Linked DNA regions of Homo sapiens. The protein of the gene in region 2 purifies or fractionates together with the protein of the main gene of each other region. This does not show direct contact. Each region holds a gene or a part of one and is shown on either strand. Other genes may lie near its edges.

Evidence for each region.
Region 1: the proteins of HDAC1 (region 2) and MIER2 purify together in Homo sapiens (affinity purification with mass spectrometry; 5 studies listed by BioGRID and IntAct, with this or other methods). This does not show direct contact.
Region 3: the proteins of HDAC1 (region 2) and ZNF217 purify together in Homo sapiens (co-immunoprecipitation; 7 studies listed by BioGRID and IntAct, with this or other methods). This does not show direct contact.
Region 4: the proteins of HDAC1 (region 2) and CHD3 purify together in Homo sapiens (affinity purification with mass spectrometry; 15 studies listed by BioGRID and IntAct, with this or other methods). This does not show direct contact.

Annotation. Positions count from the first base shown.
Region 1 is NC_000019.10:341,777-349,085, forward strand, and holds the start of MIER2 (mesoderm induction early response protein 2), read right to left. Parts: upstream 3,021-7,309; 5' UTR 3,007-3,020; coding exon 2,998-3,006; intron 2,699-2,997; exon of another isoform or gene 2,049-2,698; coding exon of another isoform or gene 2,034-2,048; exon of another isoform or gene 1-2,033. UniProt on the Homo sapiens protein: Transcriptional repressor.
Region 2 is NC_000001.11:32,323,063-32,330,095, reverse strand, and holds part of HDAC1 (histone deacetylase 1), read right to left. Parts: intron 5,618-7,033; coding exon 5,543-5,617; intron 3,158-5,542; coding exon 3,019-3,157; intron 2,953-3,018; exon of another isoform or gene 2,638-2,952; intron 2,561-2,637; coding exon 2,419-2,560; intron 1,029-2,418; coding exon 936-1,028; intron 1-935. UniProt on the Homo sapiens protein: Histone deacetylase that catalyzes the deacetylation of lysine residues on the N-terminal part of the core histones (H2A, H2B, H3 and H4).
Region 3 is NC_000020.11:53,566,569-53,569,870, forward strand, and holds the end of ZNF217 (zinc finger protein 217), read right to left. Parts: intron 2,697-3,302; coding exon of another isoform or gene 2,548-2,696; 3' UTR 503-2,547; downstream 1-502.
Region 4 is NC_000017.11:7,884,388-7,891,792, reverse strand, and holds the start of CHD3 (chromodomain-helicase-DNA-binding protein 3), read right to left. Parts: upstream 3,005-7,405; 5' UTR 2,971-3,004; coding exon of another isoform or gene 2,928-2,970; 5' UTR 2,793-2,927; coding exon 2,693-2,792; intron 2,130-2,692; coding exon 2,017-2,129; intron 1,223-2,016; coding exon 1,052-1,222; intron 854-1,051; coding exon 729-853; intron 1-728.

The DNA.
Region 1 (7,309 bases), on a different chromosome or scaffold from region 2:
GCGTAAACAGCATTCTAGAAACAAGGTCCAGAGGACAACAGGCCACAGACCCAGGCGTCCACCAGGGTCTTCAGGCAGTAGAAGCGGCAGCCAGCTACTCAACATAAAGACTGCACCAGAGGACTGGGTGCAGAGCACAGACCAGCCCTTCCCCCAGGGCAGCCCCCACAGGTATAGAGTGCACCAAAAACACAAGAGGCCACCCTGCAAAGCTTAACCCAAAATGACAGGGTGGCAGGTTCCATTCGCCAAGATGGCTGCACCTACCTCTCCCATGCCCCAAGCCCTCTCCCCAGTGTGACTGAAACAACCTCCTCCTAAGAGCCATGCTTGACCCTCCTCCCACCCACACCAACTCAAGTGCCAGGCGCTTGTTGGACTACCCAGCACCCCACTCCTCCGTCTGACCAATGTTCCCTGGGCGCCCACTCTGGGCTCAGCAAGGCAGTGGCGTGGTGGTTAACCTGAGAAACAAGTTCCACCTGCCTCCACCCACATGGAGTTGCTAGTTTTGGACACAGACAACAAACAAGTGGACATGTATGGTACCGAGAAGAGAAAACAGGGCGCACGGGCTCTGCAACTGCGGGTCAGGGAAGGCCTGGGGGGCCTCAGTCGAGGTGGAACCATCGTTGGCAGCCCCCAAATGGGTAGAGTGCACCAGCAAACAGGAGCCCAGGGCCCTAGAGTAGGGGGCAGATCCGTGGGGACCACCTCACAGGGCTGTGGGACTCAGCAAGGAGGAGCATTTTATCCCAGGGACCATGAAAAGCCATGGAGGGTTTTAGGTAGGAGCAAAAGATGGTGCTCTTAGGTTTTTAAAAGATCAATCTAGTATGCCTGAGAAAAGTATGAAGCATTCCCGTCTGCCACTGTGGTGCTTATGATTATTCTGGGATACTGATACAGAATAAAGTAGCTAGTACTGATCACGTGCTATAAAGTTACAAATTGCCACTTTTACGGGTTAAAAACAGTGGAATATCGTCAACTTCACAAGATTCAACTTCCATGTACAAGCCGTTGTGGCAGGACCTCATCAGACCTCCTAGCTCTGAAGGGTGACCATTAAACTTCCCATTTCAGAGATGAGGAAAAGGAAGTTCTGAGTCACTGGGCAACCTGCCCAAGACCACACAGAACAAGTCCGGTGGTCAGACAGCTTGCCATGGCTCCTCACGCTCAGCACCTCATACTTGTTGGTCCTAACCCACCCACGTCTCTCTCTGACCAGACTCTGCATCCCTGTAGGAGAGGCCCTGTCTGCTCCATTCACTCCCAGATCCTCAGGCCGAGGACAGAGCGGGACCTCCTTAGAAAATCAAATCAAATTCACTCAACAGGGCACCACCCCAAAGTGTAAAACAGGGTTAACAGGAGCAGCCGGACCACAAGCTGCTGTGCACATTTACGGAGCTCAGCCTAGAGCAGGGCAGAACAGCCACATGGCAGCTCTGGGGGAGGCTGGCTTGGGAGTCTGACTTGTGCCATCCCAGACACAGAGCTACCTGTCAGGCCACGTGTGTTGCCCAGATTCCAGGAGCACAACTCATTCGACCACCACGTCGCTGCAGGGCCACTGGGAGACGCGGCTTCTGCCTCCGACCCTGGAGGACAGCCACCATCTGCATGGGGACTCAGTCTCCCTAAGCGTCTCAAGAAGAACTAATTCTCGATGAAGGAACTGGCCGGTGGTCTGGCCTAGTATCGAGACACCTACACCGTCTTTGGCATAAACACAGGGCCTGTTACTGCCCCTGAGGTCGTCACCAGGGGGAGAGAATGGCCAGTCCTGCCTCCCACAACGCCCAAGACATAAACACGCAACGTGGCACCACGGCCAGGCCGCAGTTCCAATCCCGGCTTCCCACGAGGCGGCTGTGCCTGGCTGGGTGGGCACCTTTTCCTTTGGGCTCTATCCCAGAGATAGGATCAGCTCTTGAGTCTGCCCGCCTGTCGTAACTTCTGCGCACAGAAGTCATGCACTGAGTCCCACTGACTGAGCACCTCGCAGCCGCCGCACCTTCACCTACATTATCTCTTTCCATCTTCACCAGGGCCCTCCAAGGTGAAAGCAAGTCCACACAGGCTCATCCACCACTCCAAAATCAAAAAAAGCTTCAAAAGCGAAAGTTTCTTCCTTCCTGGTTTGACCTGACACGAAGCTATCTGTTGTCTTATCCTAGACAGTCCTAGGTGGGTTTGATCAAACATCACAGTCCAAAATCCCACAGATCCTCAAATTGGAAAAATTCTGGATTCCAAAATATAGCTGGTCCCAAACATTTCAGATAAAGGGTCCCGGGCTTGTTTCCTGGACGAGGGAGGAGGCTCCAGAAGTAACTTCGTGCCCGGGAGAGGCTGGTCCAACTCTTCTGAGATCAGCCCCGACGCTCTCTAGGCCCCGGCAGACCCACCCACCCTGCGCCCAGTTCGCGCCAGGCGGGTCCGCGTCGGGAGTTCAAATCCCGCCCGGGGTCTGACCCAGCCCCGCCGGGGGGCTCGCGGGCGGCGGAGGCGCGGTGGGTCCACCGGGATCCCGATGGGGAGCGCGGGGCGCCTGGCGGCCCCAGCACTCGGCAAAGTTGGCAAAGGCGCGGGAGGGGAGGCCTGCGCGCCGCGGGGCCCGGGCCGGGGCCGGGAACCGGAGCCGGACCCTGGAACGGAGCCGCGCGCCCACCGGACCCCCGACACCAGCCCCGCCCCGCGTCCCTCCCCTCCCCCACCCCGGCCCCCGCCCGCCCCGCGCCGCCGCGCATGCGCACTGCAGCCCGCGATGTGGCAGCCGGGGGAGTTGGGGGGTGGGGGCCGGCCGGGGGCGGCCGCCGATGGAGCCCCGCGCCCCTCCGGCCCCGGACGGGCCAGGCGCCCCGGCCGGCCTCAGAGCTCCAGAGCGGGGCTCTCCGTCCCTGGGGCCCACGACGAGGCCGAGCCACGGCGGCGGGGGGCGCGGACGCGCGGGGGCGGGGGGCCGGCTCCCCCGGCCCGCTCACTCACCTCCGCCATGGCCGTGTGTGCGCGGGAGGCGGTGGCCGCGCCGGGATCCCCGGATGAGGGGCCGCGCACTCATTGGCTGTGGAGCCTGGAGGGCGGGGCAGGGGGCGGAGCCTGGAGGGGGCGGAGAGCGGGCCGGGCGCGTAGTAGGTGCGCGGGCGCGGGCGCGGGCGCGCAGCCGAGCGTGGCCGGCGGCTTCTGGCGAGCTTGCGGTGTCTTTCCGGCCGTCTCTGCTGGACCCTGATCTTGGCCTTGGCCTTGGCGGAGGAGACTGCATTCCATAAAAATACGAATTCCTGATAATCACACCTGCGTGGGGACCACGTGGTCCTGTGTGACCTCTTCATTCCCTCGGCTGCTCGCTGTTAATACCCCGCGTGGCAGACTAGGAAACTGAGGCCCAGGGCGACGGGCCACCCAGAGTGTCAGTGATAGAGCCAGAATTGGTGTCCGGGCTGCGTGGTTCTGGAATTTTCTGCACTTTCGCACCCGTGATGAGCAAACTAGCGCGCGGAGGAACCAATCGGGGAGCTTGCGAACGCGCACCAGTCGGAGAGGTTTTAGAAACGGTGGCCCCGCGCCGGAGAGCCCAAGGCGGGAGGCAGGGAGGTGGGCTTGACCCCAGGGCCATTTGGTTCTGCAGTCCGTCGTTTCGCAGATTGAACATTTCTGGAACACGTGCACGTTCTGATCCTGAGGGTTTGAAGGAGACAGCCCTAACGCCTGTCTTCAGGGCGTTTAGAGTGGAGGATGGGAAGGCAAGGACTCGCCACACCTTAAATTTGAGACGGATAAGTGCCGTGAATCTTCGGGGCGCACGATGCAGAGAGAGGATAGGAAGCAGGGGTGGGGCGTGAAGAGGCAGGGGCCAGGTGGGAGCTGTGGGGCCTGGACCAGAGTGCAGAGAGACTTGAGAAGGTGGACACCACAAGACTCGCTGATGGAGGGAAGCTGGAGAGAGTGAAGGATGGCCTCCAGATGTCTGGCTTGCGCAAATGAGTGGAGGGCGGTTCCTACTGAGACCAGGAAGAAGAGAACTGGAGACCAGGAAGAAGGGAATTGGGGACCAGGAGGAAGGGAATTGGGGACCAGGAAGAAGAGAATGAGTCTCATTCCTGTTTCCCAGTGATCAGCCAATGAATAGTGAGAACTTGACATGCATCAGCCTTGATTCCTGATGCAAAATCATTACTCAGTCCTCTGAGAATTCACCAACCAAGAGATAGAAGAACCACTCTGGAGGGGTCTACCCTCACTCCTTTTTTGGTTTACATCATTGAGATTGAGGGTTCTGGCCCTCGTGTTGAAGAGTCCTCACTGATTTGTGCAAGAGTTGGTTCCTTCCTTTATTATTCATTTGTTATTATTCATTCAGTCATTCAGTGAACTAAACACATATCTTATGCAGTCCTCAACTGGGTGCTGGGTAGCCAGAGGTCCTGTGAAGCAGGGAGAAGCATGAACAGATAAGAGAGTGAGGTGCTGTGCTGTAACAGGTGGAGGGGCCCGAAGACAAGGGCTTGAGTCCACCTGGCAAAACGAGGGAAGACTCTTAGGAGAGGGCTTGGCAAGAATCATCACATAGATGTCAAATGAGGACTTGGGTGAAGAGAAGGGTATTGTGGCTTGGAACGGTGACTCACACCTCTAATCCTAACACTTGGGGAGGCAGAGGCAGGAGGATCACTTGAGGTCAGGAGTTTGAGACCAGCCTGGGCAACAGGGTGAAACCCTGTCTCTACTAAAAATACAAAAATTATCCGGGCGTGGTGGCGAGTGCCCATAATCCCAGCTATTCTGTGGAGGCTAAGGCAAGAGAATCACTTGAACCTGGGAAGGCAGAGGTTGCAGTGAGCTAAGATCACTGCACTCCAGCCTGGGAAACAGAGTGAGACACTGTTTCAAAAAAAAAAAAAAAAAACTTTAAACATTAGAGGGCATGACGATAATGTGCCTGTAGTCCCAGCTACTCTGGAGGCCGAAGTGGGAGGATCTCTTGAGCCCAGGAGGTCGAGGCTGCGGTAAGCAGTGATTGTGCCACTGCACCCCAGCCTGGGCAACAGAGTGAGACCTGTCTCAAAAAAAAAAAAAAAAAAGAGTGAAGGATATTTTAAGGTCTGAAAGTCTGTCTCCGTAGACTGTTAGTCGCAGTGGAGAAATGAAGCCACTTGTTGGGTGGGTGATAAAACTCAGCATCCCTGGTAAAGGGCAGGTGCACACCATGTGCACCTGGATGTGGTGTCCAAAGCAGGACACGGCATCACTGAATCCAGCCAGCAATGCACAACCCATATCTACATATGAGGAAATTTCAGACAAACCCAAATAAGGAATATTCTGTTAAACAAAAGAGGGACTGTATTCTTCAGAAATGTTAATGCCACAATGGGGCGTGGTGGCGGGTGCCTGTAATCCCAGCTGCTCAGGAGGCTGAGGCAGGAGAATCACTTGAACCCGAGAGGCGGAGGTTGCAGTGAGCTGAGATTGCGCCACTACACTCCAGCCTGGGCGACAAGAGCAAAACTCCATCTCAAAACAAAACAGGCCAGGCGCTGTGGCTCACACCTGTAATCCCAGCACTTTGGGAGGCTGAAGCAGGAAGATCACGAGGTCAGGAGTTCAAGACCAGCCTAGCTAGCATGGTGAAACCTGATCTCTACTAAAATAATACAAAAAATTAGCCGGGCGTGGTGGTGCACACCTGTAGTCCCAACTACTCGGGAGGCTGAGGCAAGAGAATCGCTTGAAACCGGGAGGTGGAGGCTGCAGTGAGCCGAGATGGCACCATTGCATTCCAGCCTGGGCGACAGAGCAAGACTCCGTCTCAAAAAAAAAAAAAAAACCACAGCGACAACAACAAAAAAAAGTTAATGCCAGAAAAGATAAACCTGTGTAAATCTTTTTTTTTTTTTTTTTTTTTTTGAGATGGATTCTCGCTCTGTTGCCCAGGCTGGAGTGCAGTGGCACAATCTTGGCTCACTGCAAGCCCCACCTCCCGGGTTCACGCCATTCTCCTGGCTCAGCCTCTGGAGTAGCTGGGACTGCAGGCATGTGCCGCACCTGGCTAATTTTTGTATTTTTAGTAGAGATGGGGTTTCACCATGTTGGCCAGGATGGTCTCGATCTGTTGACCTCGTGATCCACCCACCTCACCCTCCCAAAGTGCTGGGATTACAGGCGTGAGCCATAGCACCCGGCCAGTACGGAGGGTTTCTACTATACTCATTCTTGCAATTATTCCATGAGCATAAAATGAAGTAAAACTCAGAAAATAAAGAGCAGCGAATCTTGAGCAGGGAGCTTAAGGGGAGAGGCTGGAGAGGGTGCCCCTGGCCGTGGCACAGTGGTTTGAGTGGACACCTCACGTTGGAGGAGATACGCCTGCATGTGCCTCCACTCCAGGCTCCCTGTTTCTTCTCTGCCTGGTTTTCATGGTCACCGGGCAGCTCCCAAGTTTGACAGAGGCATGGTGTCCCGGGATGAGGGTCCAGGTCACCGCATCGCTACACCTCTTGGAGCAGATGGAGACTGCGTGGTGGAGCTGGGGGTGATGAATCCATTGCAGCCCCGAGGCGGGGAGGCAGGGGACGCTGTAGTTCACCCAAGCAGTGTCGTTCTTGCAAATTTTCCCTAGAAAAAAGAGGCCTCACAAGATACTGGAGGAGCTGTGAGTAGTGCATGGGGTGGCCTGTGGTGGATGCTGGGTGCATCATCAAACCCTCCCCTACACAAGCACTAACTTCCCCCTCTGCTCAGGGTCAAGTATCCCTCTGAGGGGCGGCCCACATCAGCGACTGGCTGGTACAGATCCATAAAGACCCAGGCACCTGTGACCAACTGGGGTCAACCGTGAGGCTGCAGAGCTCCTGTAGGATTGGAGGCGGCTTGGTCATCTCAGCTCGCTCCTCCCTCCCTCCAGCCCTGCTTCCTTCACTCTCTGACAGGTGTTGACCCCAAGGGTAACCCCGACAATATTCCTGCACATAATCTTTGTCTCGCAGTCTATTTCCTGGAGACCTAACCCGTGCCACAAAACATGAGTCACATTTTGAAAGGTTTAAAAAAACAAACAAGGCCCGGCGTGGTGGCTCACGCCTGTAATCCCAGCACTTTGGGAGGCCGAGGCGGGCGGATCACAAGGTCAAGAGATCAAGACCAGCCTGGCCAACCCGGTGAAACCCCATCTCTACTAAAAATACAAAGATTAGCCGGGCGTGGTGGCGGGCGCCTGTAATCCCAGCTACTCGGGAGGCTGAGGCAGGAGAATGGCGTGAACCTGGGAGGCGGAGCTTGCAGTGAGCCGAGATCGCGCCAC
Region 2 (7,033 bases):
GCAGTCAGTGTTTGCTGAATGACTACCTGACCTTATTAGGTTAAGCAGTTTCTTACTGTTTATAAGTGAAGATTTAACTCCTTGGCATGGCATTCAAGGCTCCCTTTGAAATACTGAGCCCAGCATACACTTCCCACCGCCTCCTTCAGCACTCCTCCCATACACCACACTGGCCTACATGCTGCCACACTGGCACCTCTGCACTTCTGCTAGTGCCATTCCTTCTACTAAATGCCACCCTTACTGCCATCACCTCCTTCTTCACATGGGCACCTCCTCATTTTCCAAAGTCCAGCTTAAACATCAGCACCTCTGTGAAATCATCCCTGGCTACCCTCCTGCCAGCCCAGGCAGTAGTTTGTCTCTCATTCCTCTGATCATCCCTCAAAAACACAGGCACTAGGCCAGCCTACCCATGGAACATGCCACACAGCCTTTCCAGAATCTCTGGATGGGCTGACTGGCAAAGGGCTTTCCCAGACAAAGCCAGTCTGCAAAGACTGGAGTAAGTCCCTACTTCTTCTAATGTGCAGACATCAATGTAAGGCAATGAGGAACACAAAAAACCAAGGAGACATACCACTACCAAAAGAACACAATAATCTCCCAGCAGCCCAAAGAAATGGAGATACAAAAACAGTACTAATCATAGACTACTGGGTATGTGCCTGCCTTCCCCACCATAGTCCGTGAGGGCAAAGATCATGTCTTAGATATTTTTGTATCCAGCAGAAGACCTGACCCATAGAAGGAACCAATAAATATGGGTGTTTGTTCCCCTAACTGACCACACAGCAATCCAGGGTTCAAACACTTCTATCTCCCCACCAGCTTTAGTAAGGAGAGATTCCTGAGGTATGGTGGGGGTGCTTTGCTCCCCTCCACCGCCAACCAATCCCCTGTTTGTAGCCCAAGGGGTGGATAAAGCCACTTACCGGCTTGAAAATGGCCTCATAGGACTCGTCATCAATCCCGTCTCGGAGCGGGTAGTTAACAGCATAATACTTGCCTTTGCCAGCCCCGATATCCTAATTAAAAAGGCCATTAAAGTAAAACTGAAGGATGAAGCTTGAAGGAAGGTCAAGGATAGGGGCTGGAGGGATAAAGGAAGAGGTTCAAGAGAGACAAGCTAGGCCCATGATGTGGGCCAGGACAGAACAGAGGTACCTTGTTAGTACCATTCTCTTCACTGGCAAATCTAGCTTCACTGGCAAATCATCTCTGGACATAGCATTAAGCCTACCCCCAGACTGAGAGCTCTTGATGGGACCAGAGATTGAATAGCCTACCCTATAGCACAAGATTTCTACCTTGGGATTGGGTTAGAGCTGGCTGGCAGGTGAGTCACAGAAGTGACAGCCACCCTTGACAACCCTTTCCACTCCAGAGAGCTCTAATGCTCACTCCTCTTCCCCCATGCTCCCTCTCTAGGGTGTTGTGGAGGGAAGGAGAGAGGTAAGAAAGTCCTTCCCAGTAACCTCAAAATAGTGAGTGCGCCTATTTAAGTCCAGCACTTTGGGAGGCTGAGGCGGGTGAATCTTGAGGTCAGGAGTTCGAGACCAGCCTGGCCAACATGGCAAAACCCCATCTCTTTTAAAAATACAAAAATTAGCCGGGCATAGTTGCACGCACTTATAATCCCAGCTAAATCCCGGCTATTCGGAGGCTGAGGCACAAGATCGCCTGGAGGCGGGAGGCGGAGGCTGCAGTGAACCGAGATCACGCCACTGCACTCCAGGCTGGGTGACAGAGAGAGACTGTCTCAAAAAAAAAAAAAAAGTGAATGCTCATTTATTCTAACGCTTGCCATGGCAAACAACTGAATTAGTGCCACTTTTTTACCCAAGGGCTACCAGGCATGGCAAAGCAGCTGATTTCACCACATTCATGCTAATAGAAGCAGATGGAACAGTTCAACGAAGTAGCTTCCAAGGATTCTTATCCTAAGGTTCATGGATGGGCTTCAGTAAGGGGACTTGTCTATTAACTATTCTATATCAGATGTAAAATCTCATGTACTTTTCTGGAGAGACAGTCCATAGTTTTCAGTCAAAAGGCTAAAGGGGAAAGTGACCCAAAAACATGAAGAACACTTGAGATGTCCTTCAGAGTCCCAATTCCTACCCCCAAACTCAAGGCTTATGAGACATAAGAATAGTGTGATGCAACCCAGCTGTGGCCAGGAGGAAAGTACAGTGAGTCAGGAGACCCCTCTTCTTTCTCTGGCCCTTTATGTCCCATCATTCCCTTCCTCCAGAATAAGGAAGGGAAAGAGATCAGGGCAAGTGCTTCAGATTGGGATGTGGTATTCTGATTGGCAGAAGAGGCAAGAAGCAATTTTTAGTGGCATGAGATAGGAGAGAGAAGTAGAGCTGCCAGCTGAGGGTAAGCCGGTTGGCTCCTAAAGGGCGTTCTCACCCGTAGGTCCCCAGTTCCTGGGAAGTACTCTCCATACTTATGAAAGGACACAGTCATGACCCGGTCCGTGGTGTAGAAGGCCTCTTCCACGCCGTCACCATGGTGAATATCAATGTCAATGTACAGCACCCTCTGGTGATACCTAGGATCAGAAGGGGGTCAGGGGTCTGGGGGCTCTTTGGGGATGGGACGTGCCAAGGGCGCTAGCTCCCAGCTTACCGGGCTGGCTGCCTCCCTCAGGTATCTCTAAGCACCAGAGACGTGGAAACTGGCTGAAGGAAGGTGGAAGAGCGGCCGGGTGTCTCCAGAGGCCTGACCAAGCCGACCAAGTCCGATCTTCCTACTCTACAGCCAGGGTCAACTCCAGCCACACAGGGACACTCTGGAGGCAGGATCTGAGCAGCATCTGCCCCTGATCATGCCGTGGCTCAGATCAAACCAAGACCCCATCAAGGAGATGATGGCCAGAGACACTCACCGAGCACATCCTAGCCAGCACATCGGTAGGAAAAGCAAACTAGGGAGGCAAGCCCAGGGGAAGAGGGAAATGGGAACCTGGCCTAAGGTGCTCTTCCAAGAGACAAGGCCAGGCAGGCATACTTTAGCAGTTCCAGGATGGCCAAGACGATATCATTGACGTAACAGAAGCCAGATGCCTCGGACTTCTTTGCATGGTGCAGGCCCCCAGCCCAATTCACAGCGATGTCCGTCTGCTGCTTATTAAGTTTCACAGCACTTGCTGGGCATGAGAAAAGAGAACATAAGCCTGTTACTAAGCCACTCTCCCCTTCCTCCAAGAAGCCCAGGGAACCTAGTGAAAGGTTAAGACCTGCCTATTCAACAGCTGTATTGTGCAATTCATAGACCAGTCCCCTCCCTCCCACCCTACTTCAGCAGGGAATACATGATACTGTCTACTCGTAAAAAACGATTTTCCAAACTGAGGGTAGTAACCCATTAGCAGGCCTTAAAATTGATTTAGTACATCATGATTAGTGTGTGTGTGTATATATATATATATTTTTTTAATGAAATAGCATAGAAAAAAATATCAGAGTAACAGTAAGGGTAACTGCTCTTTTGTAAAACTCTGGCTTCAGAGTGAGTGAGTGTGTGCATGCATGCATATGTTATATGTATCCTGGATTGCATGTGTAAATTTATTTCTTACTATGGCTCATGGTCAAGGAACTTTGAAAAAATACCAAAGATAGGCCATGCGCGGTGGCTCACACCTGTAATCCCAGAAGTTTGGGAGGCCAAGGCGGGCACATCACCTGAGGTCAAGAGTTCGATACCAGCCTGGCCAACATGGTTAAACCTCATCTCTATTAAAAATACGAAAAAATTTAGCTGGGCGTGGTGACATACACTTGTAGTCCCAGCTACCTGGGGAGGCTGAGGCAGGAGAATCGCTTGAACCCAGGAGGCGGAGGTTGCAGTGAGCCAAGATCACGCCACTGCACTCCAGCCTGGGTGATGGAGGGAGACTCTATTTCAAAAAAAAAGAAAAAGAAAAATTACCAAAGATAGTGCTGATACACTAGGTCAAAAAGCACTAGCACGAATAGGTCCCAGAAGAAGTAAAAGATAAATACACACCCATGTGTGCAAGTGCATTTGTGGCAGTGTTAATTTGTTGTTGTTTTTTGAGATGGAGTCTCACTCTGTCACCCAGGCTGAAGTGCAGTGGCGCGATCTCGGCTCACTGCAACCTCCGCCTCCCAGGTTCAAGCAATTCTCCTGCCTCAGCCTCCCAAGTAGCTGGGATTACAGGCACACACCACCACGCCCGGCTAATTTTTGTATTTTTTAGTATAGATGGGGTTTCACCATGTTGGTCAGGCTGGTCTCAAACTCCTGACCTCAGGTGATCCACCCTCTTCAGCCTCCCAAAGTGCTGAGATTACAGGCATGTGCCACCGTGTCCAGCTGCAGTGTTGATTTTAACAGCAATAAAAGCATAGATTGATCCAAATTATCAAGAAGAGGGACAGATTATATCAACTCAAGTAAATCCACAACATGGAATAATCATAGAGCCACAAGAAAGCAAGCTGTAGAAAACTACAGACAATTTCGTTAAGTAGGAAATGCAGGCATAAAACCATATATATGTGATATGTATATAACCCACTTTTGTAAAATATAGATGTTGTATATGTGTGACACAGATATAAACACACACACAAAAGAATGGCCATACAAACACCAACATGGTAACAGAGGTTATCCACCAACCCTGTGACTGTGGGTGATTGTGTTTTTTTCTGTGCACTTCTTTGTTTTCTGTGATTATATTGGTGGGGCAGCGGGGATGGACACAATGATTATATTGGTGGGGGATCACAGGAAAATAAATATTTGTTAAGAAAGCGTTTAGAGTAATCCTGGAGATAACCCAAAAGTTGCAAATGGAAGTGGGAGATACATGAGGAGTATTTCTGACCTCTAAAGGTAATTACCATACTTTTTCATAGGACAGATTCACAGATGATGACACTTCCATTTTTATAGCACTTTGCAGTTCACAAATTGCTTTTACGTACAGCATCTTAACAACCCCAGGAGGTCTGCGGGGAACGCCTGTACATAAGATCTCTTAGTAGGAAAGGACAGTCAAGGACACCTGTCAGTACCATGTCAGAGATTGAACCTGGGCTGGGACTGAACCAGAGGGACATTTTAGAGGCTTTTTAAATTTTTTTTTTGGAGGCAGGGTCTTGCTTTGTTGCCCAGGCTAGAGTGTAGTGGTGTGACCACGACTCACTGCAGCCTCAACCTACTGGGTTTAAGCCTCAGCCTCCTGAGTAGCTGGGACTACAGGCACGAGTCACCATGCCCGGCTAATTGTTTTTACTTATTTTATTTTTTTATAGACAGGAGGGTCTATGTTGCCTGGGCTGGTCTTGAACTCCTGACCTCAAGCAATCCTCCTCCTCAGCCTCTCAAAGTGCTGGGATTACAGGTGTGAGACACTACACCAGCCATTTTAGAGACTTCAGTAAAAACCACAGGACCATTCTACATGGTTTCAGATCAGCCAACTAGGATAGCAGCCTAAAAGGCAGACCTCACTAGAACAACCCAGTCTACCCCTGGGGAGAAGATGAATATTCCTTACCCACAGAACCACCAGTAGACAACTGACAGAACTCAAACAGGCCATCGAATACTGGACAGTCCTCACCAACGTTGACTTGAAAGAAATAAGCAAAAGGTTAGTTTCCACAATTTCCTTTAGTTTACATATTTATGAGCTGATGGAAAAAAACACAGAATTTAAATTCAGGAGGTGTGGGTTCTAGTCCAGGCTCTACTTCCTGGCTGTATGACTGCATCAAGTTGTTTAACATCTTTGAGCTTTAGCCCATTATTATTTTTTTATTTTTTAGAGCCAGGGGCTTGCTCTGTTGCCCATGCTGGAGTGCAGTGGCACAAACATGGCTCATGTGCAGCAGCTTTGACCCTCACCTCCTGGGCTCAAGCAATCCTTCCACCTCAGTCTCCCAAGTACTTTGGACTACAGGTGCATGCCACTATACCCAGCTAATTTTTTTTTCTTTTTTTTTTTTTTAGAGACAGAGCCTCACTATGTTCCCTAGGCCTCATGCAGTCTTCTTGCCTTGGCCTCCCAATAGGCATGTGCCATCACACCTGGTCTTAGCCCATTATCTATAACAAGCAAAACTGATATCCCACCTCACCCACTGGTCAGAAAATTAACAAAAATCTAATATGGAGAAGCAGTTAGCAACTTGGAAAATGTTGGTTCGTTTCTTGAGGGAGAAAAACTTATCCTCTGGCCCTCACGCCAGCTGACAAACAAGGGGCAAGAACAGAGACCCAGAGAACTATCGTTCACTGCGCACGTACAACACGCCAGACACTGCGCTACATGCGTTAAATACCCGAGATCATTCATCTTCACACAAGCTTCTGAGGTAAGATTTGGTCCCATCTTATAAGTAGGGAAACAAGGCCTGGCACAGTGGCTCACACCTGTAATCCCAGCACTTCGGGAGGCTAAGGCAGGAGGACCACTTGAGGCCAGGAGTTCAAGACCAGCCTGGGCAACATGGAGAAACCCCATCTCTACCAAAAACATAAAAATTAGCCAGGTGTGGTGGCAGCTGCCTGTAATCCCGGCTACTTGGGAGGCTGAGGCACAAGAACCACTTGAACCCGGGAGGCAGAGGTTGCAGTGAGCTGAGATCGCGCAACTGCACTCCAGCCTGGGCGAGACAAGAGTGAGACCCTGTCTCAAAAAAATAAATAAATAAATAAGTAGGGAAACAGGTTCAGAGAGGTGAGCTGTTAGTAAATGGCAGAAGCAGTATGCAAGCCTCAAGCTTTGGTTTGTCTGTTTTTTTTTTGAGACGGAGTTTTGCTCTTGTTGCCCAGGCTGGAGTATAGTGAAGTGATCTTGGCTCACTGTAATCTCTGCCCTCCAGTTTCAAGCCATTCTCCTGCCTCAGCCTCCCGAGTAGCTGGGATTACAGGTACCTGCCACCACACCTGGCTGATTTCCGCATTCTTAGTAGAGACGGGGTTTCACCATGTTGGCCAGGCTGGTCTCAAACTCCTGACCCTGTGATCCGCCCGCCTCGGCCTC
Region 3 (3,302 bases), on a different chromosome or scaffold from region 2:
GCTCTGTTGCCCAGGCTGGAGTGCACTGGCGCAATCTCAGCTCACTGCAACCTTTGCCTCCCGGGTTCAAGTGATTTCTCATGCCTTAGCCTCTTGAGTAGCTGGGGCCACAGGTGTGCACCACCACACTCAGCTAATTTTTGTATTTTTAGTAAAGACGGGGTTTCGCCATGTTGGCCAGGCTGGTCTCAAACTCTTGGTTTCAAGTGATCCACCCGCCTTGGCCTTCCAAAGGGCTGGGATTACAGGCGTGAGCCACGTGCTGGCCTTAAAATTGTGTTTATAAGCCAGGCATGATGGCTCGATACTCGGGAGGCCGAGAGCTGGAGGATCAGTTGAGCCCAGGGGTTCAAGGCTGCAGTGAGCTGTGATTGCACCACTGCACTCCAGCCTGAGTGACAGAGCAGGAGCACATCTCAAAAAAAAAAAAAAGAAAGAAAACTAAAAAGTTAAATAAAACAAAATCAGAAACCAGAAACACAATAAACACTAAAACTCAAGATTGCAAAACACCAAATCTATATTTACACTTCCACATATAATAACATAACTTTAAGCTGAAATATATCATAAATAAAACAAGTAATGTCTACTGTTCGACAACTTAAGTATCAACAATTAAAATAAATCAAACTGGAATGAAATAAATACATAAACAAAAATCCAACGAATTGTACCTCTATTATATGTACTGTTGTCTCAAAGAAAAAAAAATATAAAACCAGTAGTATACCAATAGTTAATACTGATGGACACAAAAACATATTTTGAAGTACAAAGGGCTGTAGGAAAATAATTGGTATTTTTATACATTCAGAAATGTGGTTAAAAAGAGAAATCTGAAAGCCCAAAAAATTCCAGCATAATACAAATCGACTTGTTTTCAAATAGATTTGGTGATTCTTTTTTTTAAATACAGGTTTAAATTCCAGCCCTCTATTATCACATACCCCCTTTAAGATTTATGGTTCTAGTCACAGCAAGCTCTCTGTAACACTCATTGGATTAGGCAAAGATTGAGTCAATCATCTTGCAAATGTGTTAATCTTCAAAAATAGGCTATAAAAGTGCAAAACTATGAAAACAAAATCTAGATTATGTACATATGGCTCAGCTTGTGAACAGGAAAAAAGGTCAATAGTGTACACTTTCCTGATACAAAGCACTTCATTGCAATGCCAACAGACTGATCTCAAATGAGTTCTCCCTTGTAACACAGGAGCTAAGACTTCTATCAAGGAGGACATCTTACGTTGCATAATTTAAAAAAAAAAAATTTTTTCTAGGATTACCCTTGCTCTATGGAGAACAGCGAGGCCAGAAAAATGAACAGTGCAAATTTATTTTTGAAACAGTTTCTTAATAAAATATTTTGTGGTCACTAAGCCCATGTACTAATAAACTCAGCCATGGACAGCATATTAAAGAACAAAAGTTTAAAATATCTAGGAAGCCAGCTGGTGGCCATCTTCTCTAAAACCCAAATTGCATGTGCACTGAGAAAAATGTTACTGCTTCAAAACAACCAAAAATGGGAAAATAACTGAGGTCTAGAAACAGATTTTCTCTTTCTAGACTCCCAGCGGGCTCGGCCAGCAGTTCCTTATTCAAAATCAATGTGTCTATAATCAACTCTAGTATGTCCACAGTTCACCCAAATGCCAGATACATTAAGACTACCAAATACAAACCTAAAATGTTCCCCCCAAAATTTCCCTTAAAACTGTTCCCCAATACCTGCAATTCACAGATATAATTTAGCATTTTTGTTTTTATATACTAATTTAGGCAAAACCCCCCCGCCACTGAATCGTCCAACAAAAATGATTAATTTGACAGAAACAAATTTAAATAACTGCACATACAGTTTATGTTTATACAACGTGTGGCTGCTCTACAGAGAAAATGCTTGTCTGTAGACACACTCTCTTAAAAATCCTACAAGCCATCCCAACGCCCTCAGTCAAGGATCCTGGAGGTTCCAGGACAATCTGGAGAGGCGAGGAAGAAGGTGCCTTCCCCATCTGAGATGCTCAAAGTTGCGATAAAATGCTGCCAGCTTCCGAATGGCTGACCTCGATATCTGCAGCACATATCATAGAGGGTCAATACTTCCATTAACAATTTTAAGACAACAATAGATTTGGGTGGATTCAACATAATACAAAATCATTGACAGTTTAAAAAAAAAAAAACATACATTTTAAATGAAAGAGCACAATAGCAGAAACTGCTCCAAGTGATGAGCTGCATTAGAGAAAAGGAATACACACAGTATTTGAACAAGCAGGTTTACAACTTAGATATTTACAGATTTTTACCTGAGGTGCAAGCATTATATACTTTTCCCCCATCCCGCCCCACCCAACCCAAATGATTTCTTTTCAGCAGCGCTCAAGTATGCAAAAATTCCACTTCTTATTTGGTCAATTCTAAGAAAAATATTATTCAGGGACAAAATAGAGATTTCCAGTCCCCATGTATGTAAGTTCCAACTGTTCCAACTAGTTTGTATTGCTATTTGGTACAAAAGTTAACAGAACAACTTTACACAACTGTAGTGTTCCTTGCAGATTCCTCATATGTTTTATGTACAGTACAATCACAGCTTATTTCAGTAGCTTTCACCATTCGCTTCTCAAAGGATGAAGTAAAATTTAATTTCATGGGGAGTAAGCACTGACATCCACCAAGACCTAAGGAAAACAACATTTTTTAAATGATTAAGATCAAAACTGAATACAGTTTAGAAAATTCTTTCTTTAAAAAAGCGTAATACATAGAACCAAACTGACCTAGAAATGCAATGGGTTCTATTTGTTGTTGTTGTTTTTGAGACAGTCTCACTCTGTCGCCCAGGCTGGAGTGCAGCGGCACGATCTTGGCTCACTGCAACCTCTACCTCCCAGGTTCAAGCGATTCTCCTGCCTCAGCCTTCCAAGTAGCTGGGACTACAGGCATGCACCACCACGCCCGGCTAATTTTTTTGTATTTTTAGTAGAGAAGGGTTTCACCATGTTGGCCAGGCTGGTCTTGAACTCCTGACTTCAAGTGATCTGCCCGCCTTGGCCTCCCAAAGTGCTGCGATTACAGGCATGAGCCACTGCGCCTGGCCCTGGGTTCTATTTAAGTTCAACTTTTGCTATGAAAGTATTAGGAGAATGACTAACTAGATAATGCTGCGAACTTTGGAGCTACTTTTAGTAATTTAACTGAGATGACTTAACCAAGAATCAGAATTCAGTAAAAGGCAGTTGCCATGCACAAGAAAATCCCAGCTACTCAGGAGGCTGTGGTGGGAG
Region 4 (7,405 bases), on a different chromosome or scaffold from region 2:
GCCTCCCGGGTTCAAGCGATTCTCCTGCCTTAGCCTCCCGAGTAGCTGGGATTACAGGCATGTGCCACCACGCCCAGCTAATTTTTTTGTATTTAGTAGAGACGGGGTTTCACCATGTTGGATGGGCTGGTCCTGAACTCCTGACCTCAGGCGATCCACCTGCCTTGGCCTCCCAAAGTGCTTGGATTACAGGCATGAGCCACTGCACCTGGCCCATCTCTGCTATTTTCTACTCTACTATTCTCTACTTTTCTTCAGGAGCCACTGAAGCTCAGGTCCCACTGCCAGCAGTGGACCCTCCATTATTACCAGGGCCTAAGGAAGGGGCACAGGACCTGCTAAGTGAGCTAAGGAAGTTCAGGAACACTGATGGTATCTCTCAGGTCCAGTCTAGAGAGAAGTCACAGAGCAGAAGATGGAGCTGTTGGGGCAGGGGAGGGCTCACTATATTCTGTCCTCACTTTATTCTGTTGCTAAAGAGTTCTCTAACCCAGCACTGGAATCATGATGGCCCCTCCACCCCTCGCCCCTCAGTGAAGAGTTCTCAACTGGGGTTCTTGGATCCTTATGAGTCTAGGAGTTCCCTGAAATGACGTGTAGAATTTGGTGTGTATACACCGTGAATTCTCTGGAGAGCAGTTTCATAGCTTTCATCAGATTCCAAGGGGTCCAGGACCTCCCTCAAATTAAAAGTGTCAATTAGCGAGGATTCCCCAGTCTTACCGCACCTCATGAACTGGCTGAAGGCTTTGTAGTTGGTGAGCGTGTGGTAATCCTCCTCAGAGAACACATGCTCCACATCCTCCAGGCCCCAGGTCAGAAGCAGAGTTGCTGATGACTTCTGTTCCACTTGCTGCGGGAGAGGGGCTTTGGTGAAGTAGGTGCTCCTCCAGCCCCTATTCCAGGCCGCACACAGGCCTGTCTACCTACCCACTAGCTTCCCTGGGCTTTCTTGCTTCTTGCCCCATTCTCCAGTCCAGTCTCCATTCCTCCCCTCCTCATGCCCGTCTTTAATGCAGATTTCTCACTCTCATTCCCTAATTCTACTCACCTTTTGCCCCCCATCTCCCTCCCCCTTTTTCCGCCGCTTTGTCTTCTTCTCCTTTTTTTCTCGGTGCTTCCTTCTTCGTTTCCGACCCGGTCCGGTTCCATATTCACTGCCCCCACTCTCTGACTTCTCCCGGTACTCATCTCGCTCAGAACCAAATTCCTCCTCACTGTCCTAAGAGAAAGAAATAAAAATAACATTTATTCATCCCTACCATTGCCAGAAACTGTTCTCAGCACATACCATATCTTACCTCTTTTAATCTTCACAACAATCCTGTGATAGTAACTAATTTTTTATCTCCTTTTTTTTTTTGGAGATGGAGTCTTGCTCTGTCACCCATGCTGGAGTGCACTGACGTGATCTCGGCTCACTGCAACCTCCACCTCCCGGGTTCAAGCGATTCTCCTGCCTCAGCCTCCTGTGTAGCTGGGATTACAGACGTACCACCGCGCCCGGCTGATTTTTGTATTTTTAGTAGAGACGGAGTTTCACCACATTGGCCAGGCTTGTCGCGAACTCCTGACCTCAAATGATCTACCCGGCTCAGCCTCCCAAAGTGCTGGGATTACAGGCGTGAGCCACTGCAACCGGCCTTTATCTACTTTTTACAGATGAGGAAACTAAGGCACAGAGAGCCAAATAAACGGCCTGGTATCCTAGACAGAGGAATGCTGGACTCTTGAATTCATACAGTCTTCCAGAGCTTGTGCTTTCAACTGCTTCTCTTTGCTGCTGAGGACACACTGACAACGAGGCTCTTCACTAGGTTGCAGTGAATGAAGTTAGGGTCCCAGATCCCTGAGATACAGGCCAACAGTGGCAGGGAAGTGGGGGGCCCGGGGGATCAAGCCTCCCTGGCTTCAGAACCCCACCCCCACACCAGTAATCAGGACCAGAGAAAATGTAGGTCTCTGAGAATGGGTCTCTTGAGCCTTGCCACAGAGTTAGGAATTCTTGACACTTACACGCTTCTTGCGTTTTCGGGGTTTTCCTGGCTTGTTCTCCTTCTGCTTCTTGGGTCCTCGTTTTCTCTTCTTCACACCCAATGCTGACGGCAGCAGCCGAATGTCATCCTTATCTTTGAAGCAAAAAGCATCAGAAAACCTAAGCCTCTAGGTTTCCAGCCTCTGAGGCCCCTCAACTTGCCCCTTCCCCACCTCGGCAGTTCCCACTCTCTAGGAAGCATTAACTCCTCCAAGCCCTGCCTCCCTTCACTGGATGCAAACAGAAAGTGTTTCGAGTACTCTGGGATGCTCTGGTTCTGAATGGGAGGTCAGGGGTCAGAAGAGAAGAGCAGCCAAACCACTCCCCTCCCTCCCCTCCTACTAACAAGAGACCAGGCTCCAGGCCATGGGCTCTGACTGTGGCAGGTCCTTTCAGTCACCGCCAGGGCTCCTCCTGCCTTCCCCCTCACTTCGCCAGCTGGCATCCTGCCCAGGAACTGGGGAAGCCATGCCCAGCTGCTGGCCTGGCCTGACCCCAGCACTTGGAGTGGGGAGACACAAGCTGGCAGCTCCCTAAGCCAGATGCTGGGGAGGGAGAGCCAAAGGTGGACACCTGGGTTCTCACACTAACACCCTGGGGCCCTGACATCCTTTTGCCAAGAGGGAGGCCTCTATTTACATTTCCTCGGATAATTACCAGGCATCCTGTCACCCCAACACAGTCCTGGAGGAAAAGAAATCCTCAGCTGGTCATTTTTACTTCTTGCCCACAGGATCACAGTGTCTGCCGCCTTCATCACACAGGAGAAAGTCTCCACAATTACCTAAATATTCCTCCTCCCAAGTAGCCTAAAACCTACCTTCAATTCTATTCCCATCTCCCTGCTCCCTTTGGGAACTAGGGGGCCATACCCTTTGTTTCCCGATCTCACCCTTCACCTCCATATTTTGTTCCAGATATCCTGACCCATTCATCTATACGCAGTATGGGAGACCCAAACAAAGATATAGGCACAGACAGACACACCCAGCATATGCCTTCTCAAAAGCACGCGCGCGCACGCGCGCACCCACACCCACACACACTCTCAGGCCCACAAATCCAGAGGATGGCCTGTACCTGCTTCAGCAGGGATAGGTCCCTGGCTTTCTCCCCAGATGTCTCTGCCAGAGGACCCCAGGCCCCCCACCCCATTATCTGTGAAGGTGTCACTCTGTGAAGGCTTGGGGAACGGAACGGAGAGTTACCCCACATAAAGGAAGACAGGATGCCCCACAGACCTGGGGCCCTGGGGCTCTGGTTCACGTCCCTCCCCTACCAAGCACTAGACTAACCAGCCAGACCTGTCTAGTACAGAGAGAGGCAGCCGATGCAAGATGGGAAAGCCTGGGCTTGGCCCAGCCCCTAGCTCTAGGACACACAATCCTTTCTCCTTCCCTCAACAGCCAACGGAAAATTAGCCACAATTAACACCAGAGGCCTCCGTTTCCACTGCCTCAGAGTCGCTGCCTCGCCTTCCTTCAGTGCCACCTTTCCTGCTAACTCCAGCATCCTGTGTCCCCTTGTGCAGGAAGACACTCTAGGACTGTGTGCGTGTGTGCAGGGGGGTGGCTGCCAGAGCCCGGGTGTGAAACGGAATGGGGACTGTAATAGGAAGTCAGCAAGGAAGGCGCCATGCCCCAGCAGCCGGCTCCCCCTGGCCCCAGGGACTTCGGTTGACTTGAACATGGAAACGCAGGCTGCCGAGGCAGTGGCAAGGGCAGGCCAACTGGCTAAGGTTCAGGGACACGGCCTCGGCCACCACCAGCCAGGGGTGGTGCACAAGCCGGTTCACTCTACTCCCCACCCCAGCGGGAGGTTCCCGAACTTGGGCAGGCGTCGGTGGCGGGAGAGGCAAAGCGAGAACGGCAAGGAAAAGCAAGGAAGGGTAATAAAGCAAATCTAAGTCCCAACCTCGGTCTCAGCAGCCACTCAATGCTGGCCTGGAGCCCAGACTCTCCCACATCCCCGGCTCGGATCTCAGGGAGGCAGGGAGGAGAGAGGCGGGGGCCGGAGGGCGCAGGGCGGAGCCTGGCCGCCCGAGCAAGCGGGAGGAGTCTCGGCCGAAGCCTCGCCTCCCGCCCGCCCCTCTCTTCTTCTAATCTCACCATCAATCTCTCACACATATATTTATTTTTTCTCAAATTCCCCTCCCTCCCCCACAACGCACCACCATAATAGGTCTGCTGCACATGCGTACTGCAGGCAGGGGGTGGGTTTGTATTTTCAGACCTTTTGCAAAGAAACTACCAGAATTTTCCGCACCACCCACAATCATTCCCCACCCCCACCCCCAAGGAATCACATCTATATATTATGTTATATTATTTCTCTCGACTTGCCAGAAGGGGGAGGGAGAAGAAATGAGTTTTTGGCTTCCTGCTCCCTTCCCCCACCAACACGACTGCTATTATTTTAAACGTTTAACAATGTAAGGAGACTGGAGAGAGGGGGAAGGGATAAAATTGGTCTTGAGTAAGAATGTAAAACAAAATGGTGAGAATCAAAGCAGTCGGAATGGAAAACAATGGAAATCTCTCCTGTGCACAAATGCATACTCTAGACAAGGAAGAGCGAGGGCAGCCTGAACAAATTTCCTTAGAGGAGGGTTCTTTTCCCCACACTTAGGTAGACAGAAATAATGAGTGTGCTAAAAATAATTTCCCGAAGTTTTACCTCCGAAAGTCATCTGAGGGGGTGTATCTGGGTCACTCATTCGACTTGGAGGGCTGAAAGGGAGATAAAAATTGCCCAGGGGGAGAGGGGAGGTGGGTTTTCATTTCAGTTGTAAAATGTAAGCAGCCTCTGACGTCTCTTCTGGTCTATTCAGAAAGCCAAGAGGGAAAGGGGAGGCCGGGTTGACACAAAGACCCATCTCAACCTCGGATCCTTTCACGCTTCTCTCCCCAACGTACCCAGATCCGGGACCCACACCACCCCACCCCAGACTCCAAGTCCCAATACAAATAGGTGAGCGCTGCCAAGCCCCTGGCAGGACCTGACGGCCTTTCTTTCCCTCTTTTCAGCGCCTCTGCCGGAGGCAACCCCAAAGGCACCCTCTCCCCACAACTCCTCATTCCTCCTCCTCCTGCCAAGGCAGGGGGCTCTCTGGGAGAACTTTTTCAAAACTTTACCCTTTTTCAGACAAGCTTGGGGGGCGGGGAGACTTTATCCAGTTTCCAGGAGACACACATCCCTCCCCGACCCACAAGAAAGCACCCCCCGCTCCCCCAAAGGTCGTCTCGGCTAGACAGGAACGTTTGCCACAGAAGCCACACGGATCAATATGACAGTTTTACAAAGAGCCCGGAGTTGGCCGTTTTGAAGTTTGGTGCATTTGTGCCGCATGGCAGCCAGAGGCCCGGGGGTGCGGAGGTCCCCCTGCTGTTCCCCAAGCAGGGGGTGTGGACACCCAGATGCTCACCTATCCCAAAGAAGACTAGAAATCACTCCACTAGGAGGGTGGTCTGAGGGGGACACCGCTGGGCGCCTGACGCGGCGCAGCGGTCTGGAGAGCGCCGCCCAGAGAGTGCCGCCGGGTGACTTGTCACCTCGGGGGACGGGTGCTGAGTGATGGTCAAGCTGCAGAACAGCTGGGTGGGCAGTTCACGCCCCCCAACGTGCTCAGGGAGTGGGTGGTTTCAGCGAGAGAGTGAGTGACAGTGAATGGCAGCCACGTGAGAGTCACAGCTGGGCAGCTTGGCCACCCCAGACTGACGGGGTCAAGAGGGGGACCCCCCCCACCGCACTTGACACAAAAGAGCCCAGAGCCCCGGCGAGATGAAGGGGGTGGAGCCGGGGGTATCTGGTTCCCCAGACACTCTTCTCTCCGCTCCCCAATCCGAATGGACTGCTGTCCCTGCACAGGCTGGGGGAGCGAGGGGACGAGCTCCTGCCTTATTCCAGGAAGTGGTCTGCGTGGACTGTGGCCACCACCTGCCCCTACTCATCAGCAGCCCACAAACATTCACAAGACCCCTCCCTCGCGTGCCACCGCATGCCCCTCAGTTGGCGGGCACCTAAGTCTCCGCGGGTGGAGGGGGGTCCGATGGACACCGTCCCCACTCTGCCTGTCCAAGTCCTGAGCGGAGGGGGCAGGCCCGTCGGCTGCTCCGTGCGGGGAAACCCCACTCTCCCTCGGTCCAACCCCACCGGGGCCAGAGCCCGAGGGGCGCTCGCGCGGCCGCCCCTCCCCCACGTGCCCCTCCCCCACGCCGCCGTCCGGCCGCCAGGGTCTCGGCGGTCCCTCGCTCGGCCAGGGAGGGGGCCCTGGCTTCGCCTTGGCCGTTTCCTGCCTACCCCCTCCCCGCCGAGGGTAAAAAAAAAACCTCCTCCTCCTCCTCCCCCGAAAGCCGCGACCGAGTGGCCCGGTCCGCGCGCGCAGCTCGCGCCCAGCGCTCTCCAGCCGGGGTGGCGGCGGCGGCGGCGGCGGCGGCGGCGGCGGCGGCGGGGGAGGGGTGCGGCGGGGGAGGGGAGGAGGCCTGGCCCCGCGGTCGCAGCCGCCACCGCCCGCCCCGACCTCCCGGACCGCCGCGGGGCCACGGGCCCGAGCCCCGGATTCGCGCTCCGGATTCGCCTCGGCTCGGCCGCGCGGTGGGTGCCTCGCCCCCGCCCGGCTTCGCGCGCCCGCGGCTCCCACTCGGGCTTGGGGGGGGAGTCGGGGCGGGCGCTTACCTGGCGGCGGGGGCGGCGGCGGCGGGGGCAGCGGTGGCGGCGGCGGCGGCGGCGGCGGGAAGAGGTGGCAGCCGGGGGGGCTGTGGCGGTCGCGGCCCCGGTCGTGGCCCGGCCCGCGCCCGAGTACTCCCTCGTCGTCGTCCTCCTCATCGTCCTCGTCGGCCGCCTCCACCTCCTCCTCCTCCTCCTCGTCGCCCTCTTCTTCCTCCTCTTCTTCCTCCTCCGACACCACCATCTCCTCCTCCTCCTCCTCCTCGTCCCTCAGAGGGGAAGCCATCCTGTGGCTCTGGCCCCCCCACCACCCCCCCACCCACCGCCCGCCCGCCTCCCCCACCGCTACCACCACCACCTCCTCCTCCTCCTCCTCCTCCTCCTCCTCCTCCTCCTCGGCGGCGGCGTCCTCCTCCTCCTCACCGCCTCCCCCAGCCCCCCAAACCCCCGGGCCACCCCCCTCCGAAACCCCCACCCTCGGGGCCGCCGTCTGAGGAGGGGGGCCAAACCACCCCCAAAAATTGTCTTGGAAAAAATTGAGGAAAGACTTTTTTTCCTTCTCTCTTTCCTCCCAAGAGAACAAGAAAGGGGGATTTAAAATATATATATATATACATATATATATATATATATATGTATATATATAAAAGTTTTCGACTTCTCTCTGCCCCCCTCTCCGTTGCTTTAAATATATTTAAATTCTGA